3 separate regions of the Homo sapiens genome follow, and all the other regions are linked to region 1. The links come from fine-mapping of genetic effects on gene expression. A gene starts in region 1. Each other region holds a variant in brackets. All regions are shown on one strand. Distances are between the middles of the regions.

What was found. PIP is the estimated chance that this variant, and not a neighbour inherited with it, causes the effect. A credible set is the group of variants that fine-mapping cannot tell apart.
Region 2: its variant is the best candidate, but not a certain one, in a credible set for the expression of NAIP in whole blood (TOPMed, PIP 0.58).
Region 3: its variant is the best candidate, but not a certain one, in a credible set for the expression of NAIP in whole blood (TOPMed, PIP 0.61).

What each region holds. Positions count from the first base shown.
Region 1 is chr5:71,023,582-71,026,351 of GRCh38, forward strand. It overlaps NAIP (NLR family apoptosis inhibitory protein), which reads right to left and starts at 1,758. Exons shown (of 17, transcript NM_004536.3): 1 at 1,034-1,758; 2 at 737-825. RefSeq lists promoters at 1-2,117, 1,522-1,886 and cis regulatory regions at 1,308-1,521, 1,887-2,770.
Region 2 is chr5:71,376,841-71,379,610 of GRCh38, forward strand. The region is part of intron 2 of LINC02197 (long intergenic non-protein coding RNA 2197); the gene reads right to left. It also overlaps the pseudogene PMCHL2. Among named protein-coding and RNA genes, the nearest start is that of LINC02197, 69 kb to the right of the region's middle. The variant T/TA (reference allele first, on the strand shown) is at 1,373.
Region 3 is chr5:71,554,782-71,557,551 of GRCh38, forward strand. It overlaps BDP1 (BDP1 general transcription factor IIIB subunit), which reads left to right. Exons shown (of 39, transcript NM_018429.3): 36 at 2,105-2,144. Among named protein-coding and RNA genes, the nearest start is that of MCCC2, 31 kb to the right of the region's middle. The variant GTCTT/G (reference allele first, on the strand shown) is at 1,253.

The sequences.
Region 1 (2,770 bases):
TTACATAGCACGCGGGGAAGGTTGGGCGCCCCACCCTAATCTTACTATGACAAAGGGCAGAGTGACCTTGACATGCCATGTGCTTTCCAGAGCAAGGGCAGAGAGTGACGCTCACTGTGGTGGGAGAGGAGACCCTCTGTTCCTAGAAAATCACAACAGCATGCCCCTGTGCTATATCCCTGGTTACTACAGCAGTCTTTGTTCTTGCCTAACAAGATTACTTCCCTGAACTGTAAAACTCCCTCAGTACTGCATACAGAGAGAGGTTAGGAGACATGGTGGTCGTGGATAGGAAATGAGGGAATTATGATAGGAAAGTTGGAGGTCCTGTTGCCGACACCCCTTAGGGTGGCCGGAGGCTGGGGTCAGTCCAGAAGCCTTCGGATGGCACCAGGAGGTAGCCCCAGCCAGAAATCCTCAGTTGCTCCAGGACCTCTTCCAGCCCCACACGACAGCTTGGTCCTCCGTGAAAGGAAACTGGTTCAAACATGGCCAATATGCCCAGCAGCCCGTGGGTATTGGGGGGTTCTCCATGTTCTCCCCAGCAAGCCTGTCCCCCAAAACTTGTAAGGCTGGCAGCCACGCTCATAATTTTTAAATGGCTAATTGGTGAAGGCAGAGTTTTCTCATTCACAGAAGCAGAAGGGGGCCCAGTATTTGGTTTGGTTTGATTCTAAAATGGAGGCCAAGAGCCTCGAAATCAAAGGACAGAGTTGAGGTCCGCCCCTTTACTCACCTTTGCAATGAATGCACCTTGGAATCCCAGACGAAGTCCCCAATATGAAGTGGCATTGTTGTCTGGGGTCAATACCCGGGGTTCGTCGTCTCGCACCAACAAGGTTAAGGACACGATACACACGAAGAGTGGGTTTAGGAGCGGAGGTTTAACACGCAAAAGAAAAAGGAGAACAGCTCTCTCCCTTGTGAGAGAGAGCGGCTTCCGAAAGGAAAATCCCAGGTTCGATCGTTTCTTATAATGGCTCACAGAACTCAGAAACTTTACTTATGTTTACTGCTTTATTATAAAGGATACAGATGAACAGGCAGTCGAAGAGGTACACAGGGCAACGTCCAGAAGGGTCCCAGGTGAGCACAGGACCTTTTGTCTTCATGCAGTTTGAGGTGCATCGCCTTCTTGGTATGTGGTTGGGGTTAACCAAACCGAAAGCTCTCCAAACCTGTGGTTTATTTTTTAATGGAGGTGCCATCACTTAGGCATGATTGGTTAAATCACTGGCAACTGGTGGTTAATCAATCTCCAGCCCTTTTACCCTCTCTGGAGGTCGAGGCGTGGGGCTGCAAATCCCAGACCTCTAATCATGCCTTAGTCTTTCAGGGGATAGCCCCCATCCTGAAGTTGTCTAAAGGATCCCAGCCACCAGTTAGCTCACTGTCATACACTCTTATCACTTGGAGATTCCAAAGGTCTTAGAAGCTCTTGTGTCAGGAACCAAGACCAAGTATTCTAATAAAAGATGTTTCTATCACCCCTGTCACTCAGGAAATTACAAGGGTTTCTGGAGATCTGTGCCAGGAACTGGATGAAGATCAAATATATATATTTATTATATCACAATATTGCAGCCTACTACTTGCCAGGCACAATTCTAAGCACTTTACATGTGTCCACTTAATTCCTTTAACAGTCCAAAATCAGCTATTGCTATATCATCTCCATATTACAGATAAGGAAACTCAAGCACATAGGGGTTAAGGTTAACCAGTGATCTGGCTAGTCTGTACTTTTACCTGATGTTGTGCTGCCATACAGACTAGATATATTTTTTTTTTTTTTAGACTGAGTCTTGCTCTGTTGCCAGGCTGGAGTGCAATGGCGTGATCTCAGCTCACTGCAAACCCAGCCTCCTGGGTTCAAGTGATTCTCCTTCCTCAGCCTCCCCAGCAGCTGGGACTACAGGCACATGCCACCTCGCCCAGCTAATTTTTGTATTTTCAGTAGAGACAGGGTTTCACCATGTTGACCAGGATGGTCTCGATCTCTTGACCTCGTGATCCGCCCACTTCGGCCTCACCAAATGCTGGGATTACAGGCGTGAACCACAGCACCCAGCCAAGACTAGATTTTTAAGAAAAGGCAATCCAGATATCCTAGAAGGTTCATTTCCTCTTTTTGGTGGTTTAGCAAATTTCTTAGTAAGGCTTCTAGCTGTTATAGCAGCATTAGTATGTGAACCACAGTTAAGCTCTAGTCCAACAAGGCCATTTCTTCAGCAGAGAAGCAATTGTTAAATAATCGACCAAGTATTCATTGGCTCCCTCTTTTTGTATCAACATACACAATTGTTACAGTGCCAGTGTTTATTGGAACCACTTTCCATGGTGCATCCAGCTGTGCCTAGACCAGCAGGTCTTTTTCCAGAAGTCCAGATGGCAGGGGAACCTCTTCACGTTGTTGACCCTTCTCCCTGTAATTTTTTCCCCAATAAACCTTTTCATTATGTTGCTGTATTTATACCCAAATACACATTACATTTATTTTAGTACCTTGTACATTTTGTTGCCCTTATAAATTGGAGGGGTTTTAAAAACTATTTTTTATTCTCAATATTCATTGATGATGTATAGGACTCCTTCTGGACTGTTTAATATATGACTGTAAATCCCCCTGAATTTTCTTAGATGTTTGTAGTATCTGATTATGACAGTTTTGTCTTTTATTTATTGCCTTGTTGCATTGATTAGGTCCTCTAATATAATGTTGCTTAATAATGAAGATAGATATCCTATCTTATTCTTGACTTTTGGTATA
Region 2 (2,770 bases), 350 kb after region 1:
CCAGGCTGGAGTGCAATGGCACGATCTCGGCTCACTGAAACCTCTGCCTCCCGGGTTCAAGCAATTCCCTGCCTCAGCCTCATGAATAGCTGGGATTACAGGTGCCCACCACCATGCCTGGCTGGTTTTTGTATTTTTAGTAGAGGCAAGGTTTCACCATCTTGGTCAAGTTGGTCTGGAACTCCTGACCCTGTGATCCACCTGCCTTGGCTTCCCAAAGTGCTGGGATTACAGGCGTGCACCACTGAGTCCAGCCTATATTCTTGTTTATCAGTTCAAAAATGCTCTGCACTGTTTTTGACTCTTTAAAAATAACTTAGATTCAAATTTATAGTAGAAGAAAAAAAATCTTTCAGATAAGAGGTGTTCTCCAGAATGGAAGAACGACTTGGCATGTAAGAAATAGCGTCAGTGTCCTAATGCATATTGTGACTGTTTGCATATACTTCTGTTTGTAAAAATATCGGTTTTATTTTCAGAGGATTTGTAAGAAACATTTAAATTTTCATTGAAATAAATGACAAGTCATACTGTCACTTAAAAAAAAAAAAAAGACCTTTGTCAAGGAGAGTGCAGTCAACCAGTAAACTGCAGATTCTCAGAATGTTTATTGACGTACTGATTATTCATTCTGTTATACTCTAACATCTGTATATTTTTACCAGTATTCTCAGACCACTTCTACCAAAACATAAATCTGTGATTGTGATCTCTGAAAGTCAGTCCTTTTATCTACTCAAGTAAGTGCAAATTTTAGAAAATAATTTTCCCTAGAAATATAAGTTGTTCTTTTCTTAATTTATCCACTAACTGTTTAGAAATATAATTAGCTTCTAAGATTTGAAAAACGGTAAATTTTAAAAGTCATATCTATTGGTTAAAGTTTAAAATACTTCCAGGAAATAAGCAGAATTGAGTTAATGTTAATTTTATCCAACTAATACTTGAAAAGGATCATTGATTTATATTACTGCCAGCTTAAACCATTTTAATTAATGTACTACTAATCATAACAGTGTTAGTTACAATTTTGTCTTCAAGTACAATAAAGACACATAGATTTGAACTCTTTTGATTATTTTTGGCCTCTTGGTCAATGCCTCATAGTCAAAATTTTAATTAAGATTTTGCACTAAAAGTAAAAAGAAAATTGGGATAAAAATGTGCAGTGTGTTTTATTCATTATGTGGAGGCATCTTTCCTATATCCAAGTTTAACTAATACTGGTCCTCTACCTGCTTAGATTAACTGGTAAGAATTTTATAAGCATTTCTTACTATCTGTTATAAACCAAAAATGGCAATCTTTCCACATTTTGACGTAATAATTTTGAGCTTATTACAAATTAAAATAAAAAATTAAAAACAAATAT[T/TA]ACCTTATAAAAATTCAAACGGTATGTATTGAATATTAATTTAAATTACTGTTATTAATATTACATGAAATACGCATGTTGTAAAATTTTAAATTACTATCTGGTTAAATAAACTATACATATTCTGTAGAGTCAAATCAGATTTTGGCAATGTTGTAGAATTTAACTGAATGCCCAGATGGAGGAACTTGATTATATTATATAAAGGGGACTACAATCCTAGAGTTGGACTCAAGCACAAGCATTTCTCATTATTTTGCAGAAGAAGACACTAAGGTTTTCAGAAATTAAATTGCTTTTTGGAAAAGGTGGGAGATTCTGGGAACATAGAAACTTGAATCCAGTTTTCTTCAACTCCACGTCAAGACAGTTGCATTGTGTGAGAAAATAGCTACGGCCATTTGTGGTAAAATCACATATATGCAATTATGTGAAACTAATTGTGTATATGTATCTGTGTATGTGTGCGTGTACAATATATAAACTATCAATATTTATCAAAGTCCGTATAGCTGCTAGCAATGAGGGGGATCTAGGATTCTATCACATGATACCTTTTTATGAGGCCTTTGTTCTTTCCAGTACATTTGTCAGCTCGTTCATGAAAGAGATTCTTAATTATTTACTGAAATATCACAAAAGTGATGGTGAGCTAGGTTGCCACATTGATCCTGATAGGTCCTTGACAAATTCATATTGACTCTCCACAAATAAAACTATAAGGCAGTTTTTCCCATTGTGATGCTTTTGTCTACAATCTTAATTGTTAACTCTTCCAAAGAATAAACACACAATATATCAATTTTTTAACCCATTTAGGTAGAAATATGGGTATATAGAAAGGAAGAAAGCAAGGTTAACGGTGAGCAGTGGCTAAATGAACAAGAGAACATTCAGTTAAGTATCTCATCTCCAAAATGGTATAAACTGTGGCAGAAAGTACTTTGTTGAATCAATAGTTTCGAGACAGACATACAGTAGGGACATCGAAGGTACAAAATAGAGCACTGATGAAGGAGTGAATTATCATCTTCACAGATGAGTAGAGAAAGAGAAGGTCTAAATATTGAGATGAGAATATAGAAATTTCTGATGCACAACACAGCTCAGAAATTCAATCTGAATATATTCCAATTCAGTGCCTTGCAATAGATCCATAATGATCGCCTATCTTTCCAGCATACAAAGCAATGCATATCATTTAAACATTTTTCTAGCATGAAAATGTGCCTGGGTTATGCAATACACACTTTACCAAAATATGATTTTGGTGGCTGTAAGCACTTAATTGTAATGACCTGTAAAATGAGCAACATTTTTAACTCCGAAATTCTAATCAATATTAGTTAATGAGGTGTGTGACAACTTATAATGCTTTTAAATACTCTTAGTGGCCAT
Region 3 (2,770 bases), 530 kb after region 1:
TTTTACTAGTTGAGTATCCTTTATTCGAAATGCTTAGGACCGGAAGTGTTTCAAATTTCAGATTTTTTTGAATTTTAGAATAATTGCATTATACTTACATTTGTATTATACTTAACAGTTCCACATCCCAAACCTGAAAAGCCAAAATCTGAAATGCTTCAATGAGCATTTCCTTTGAGTGTCATGTCAGCACTCAAAAAGTTTAGAATTTTGGAGCATTTCGGATTTTCAGCTTTGGGATGCTCAGCCTGTACAAAATTGTAGGATACACATACACTGTATTCAGATAGAAGACATTTTTTATTTTCCATAATCAGATTTATCAGTCTTTTTGTGTATGGCTTCTGGAGATTATGTTATACATTGAAAGTCCTTTGAGACTTAAATTTCCTAGTTAATGTTAATATTACTGATTTGTTGCGAATTTGATTTGGTGTAAGGAATAGGGCCAAGTTAATTTTCCTCATATGACTTTTACCGTTTACTGAATAATTCATCTTATTTCCACTGATAGGAAATTCTGCTTTTATCAGTAAGACAGTAAATCTTCATATTTGTTTGGATATATTCCTAAAACTTCCTTTTCTTTTATGTTGATTCACCTATTTGTTCTGGGGCCAGTATCATCATACTGTTTGAATTTTTGTAGTTTTCTTTATTCTTTTTTTTTTTTTTGAGATGGAGTTTCTCTCCTATTGCCCAGGCTGGAGTGCAATAGCGTGATCTCAGCTCACTGCAACCTCCACCTCCCAGATTCAAGTGATTCTCCTGCCTCAGCCTCCCGAGTAGCTGGGATTACAGGCAGCCGCCACCACGCCCAGCTAATTTTGTAATTTTAGTAGAGACGGGGTTTCTCCATGTTGGTTAGGCTGGTCTCGAACTCCGGACCTCAGATGATCCGCCTGCCTCGGCCTTGCAAAGTGATGGGATATTACAGGTGTGGGCCACCACGCCCGGCCGAATTTTTGTAGCTTTATGATGCACTTTGGTATCTTATAGGGACAGTATCTCTCCCAAACCCATACAATTTTCTTCTTTTTTCAAGTTTCTCCTCATTACTTATATGTTCTCAAATTAATATGAATTTTAGAATTAACTTGTTTAGCTCTTTAAAAAAGAGTTCTATTGGTATTTGTATTTGAATCATATTAACTTAGATTAACTTAGGGGAAATTGACAGCATAATTATAATATTGAATCTTCCTATTCAAAAACATGGTATGTCTTTCCATTTGTTTAAGTCTTGTTTTGT[GTCTT/G]TCTATTTTGTGTTAAACTCTTCTTCATATAAATCTTACACATTTCTTATAGGTTACCCCTATGAGTTTTATCTTTTTTGTTGCTGTTATCATTAAGTTCTTTTCTATTTAGAGAGCTTACTGAGTTCCCTCATTGTATGCAGTAATTTTTCAGTTGGTTCTCTTGGGTTTTGTAGGTAAACAGACATACCATCTGCAAATATAATTTTAATTCTTCTACTTTTTGTAGTTCTAATTTTTTTGTAATTATAGTGGCTAATATAACTAAAAAATAATATTAAAAAGTGATCCAAATAGTGCACATCTTTTTTTTTAATTTCCGATTTTAATAGGAGAACTTCCAGTGTTTATTATGTGGGATGCTAGCTTCTAGATTGCAATAGTTATATTTTATAGTGTTAAGAAAATATCTGTTCCATTTTATAAGTTTTTTTCAAGAATGAATATCATTGGGTACCTTTTCTATAAATACAGATGATTTTTCTCCTCAGGTCTGTTGGTTTATATTAGATTTCATAGTGTCAGATCATCTTTGCATTCCTGAAACGAGCTCTACTTGATTGTGATGTAGTAGTCTTTTGATGTGCTGCTTGTACTATTTCTTTGATACTTTTGCACTGATATTGAGACTGATTATAAAAGGCAGTTAGCAGCTTTCTCTCTTCCAGTGGGCTCTGGAACATTTTAAAATAGTAGCAATATTTTTGCCATAAATGTTTAGTAGAATTCCTCTAAGAGCTTTTTGGGAGATAACATAGTTTCTTTACTTAAAGAAAAAAAGGAAATAAAATTAATTTCAGTTTTACTTGATAAATTTCTAAATTTTTTTTTAAATTTTCTTAAAATAGGTGCACTCAAAGGAATTAACAAATGTTTTTGAGGAAACAGGTAAGTGAAATACATTTTAACATGATTGCATTTTGCTAAATACTCCTGATTATTTGGGATATACCTTGTTCAAATATGAGATTGAAACTGAGTATTCCTTTTCTCCAAGAGTAATACTTGTATTATCAGCACTTCTTTCCTGCAAAGGCCTTGGATTTGGCAGTTTGGTAGGCAAAAGAAGGTCTTTTCATCCTGTCATCAGTTGAAGACTATGTGGCTACAAGGATTTTCTATGTAAGCTCAATAACTACACTTTAGGAGTTAGCTGAATGTAATGGCTTTTTTTCTCCCCCGCCCCGCCAAGACAGGTTCTCACTCTGTTACCTAGGCTGGAGTGCAGTGGCACAATCACAGCTCACTGCAGCCTCCACCTCCCAGGCTCAAGCAATCCTCCCACCTCAGCCTCCTAACTAGCTGGGACTACAGGCATGCGCCACTATGCCAAGCTAATTTTTTTTTTTTTTTTTTTTTTTTTTTGAGACGGTGTCTCGCTCTGTCACCCAGGCTGGAGTGCAGTGGTGCGATCTCGGCTCACTGCAAGTTCTGCCTCCTGGGCTCACACCATTCTCCTGCCTCAGCCTCCCTAGTAGCTGGGACTACAGGCACCTGCCACCACGCCCAGCTAA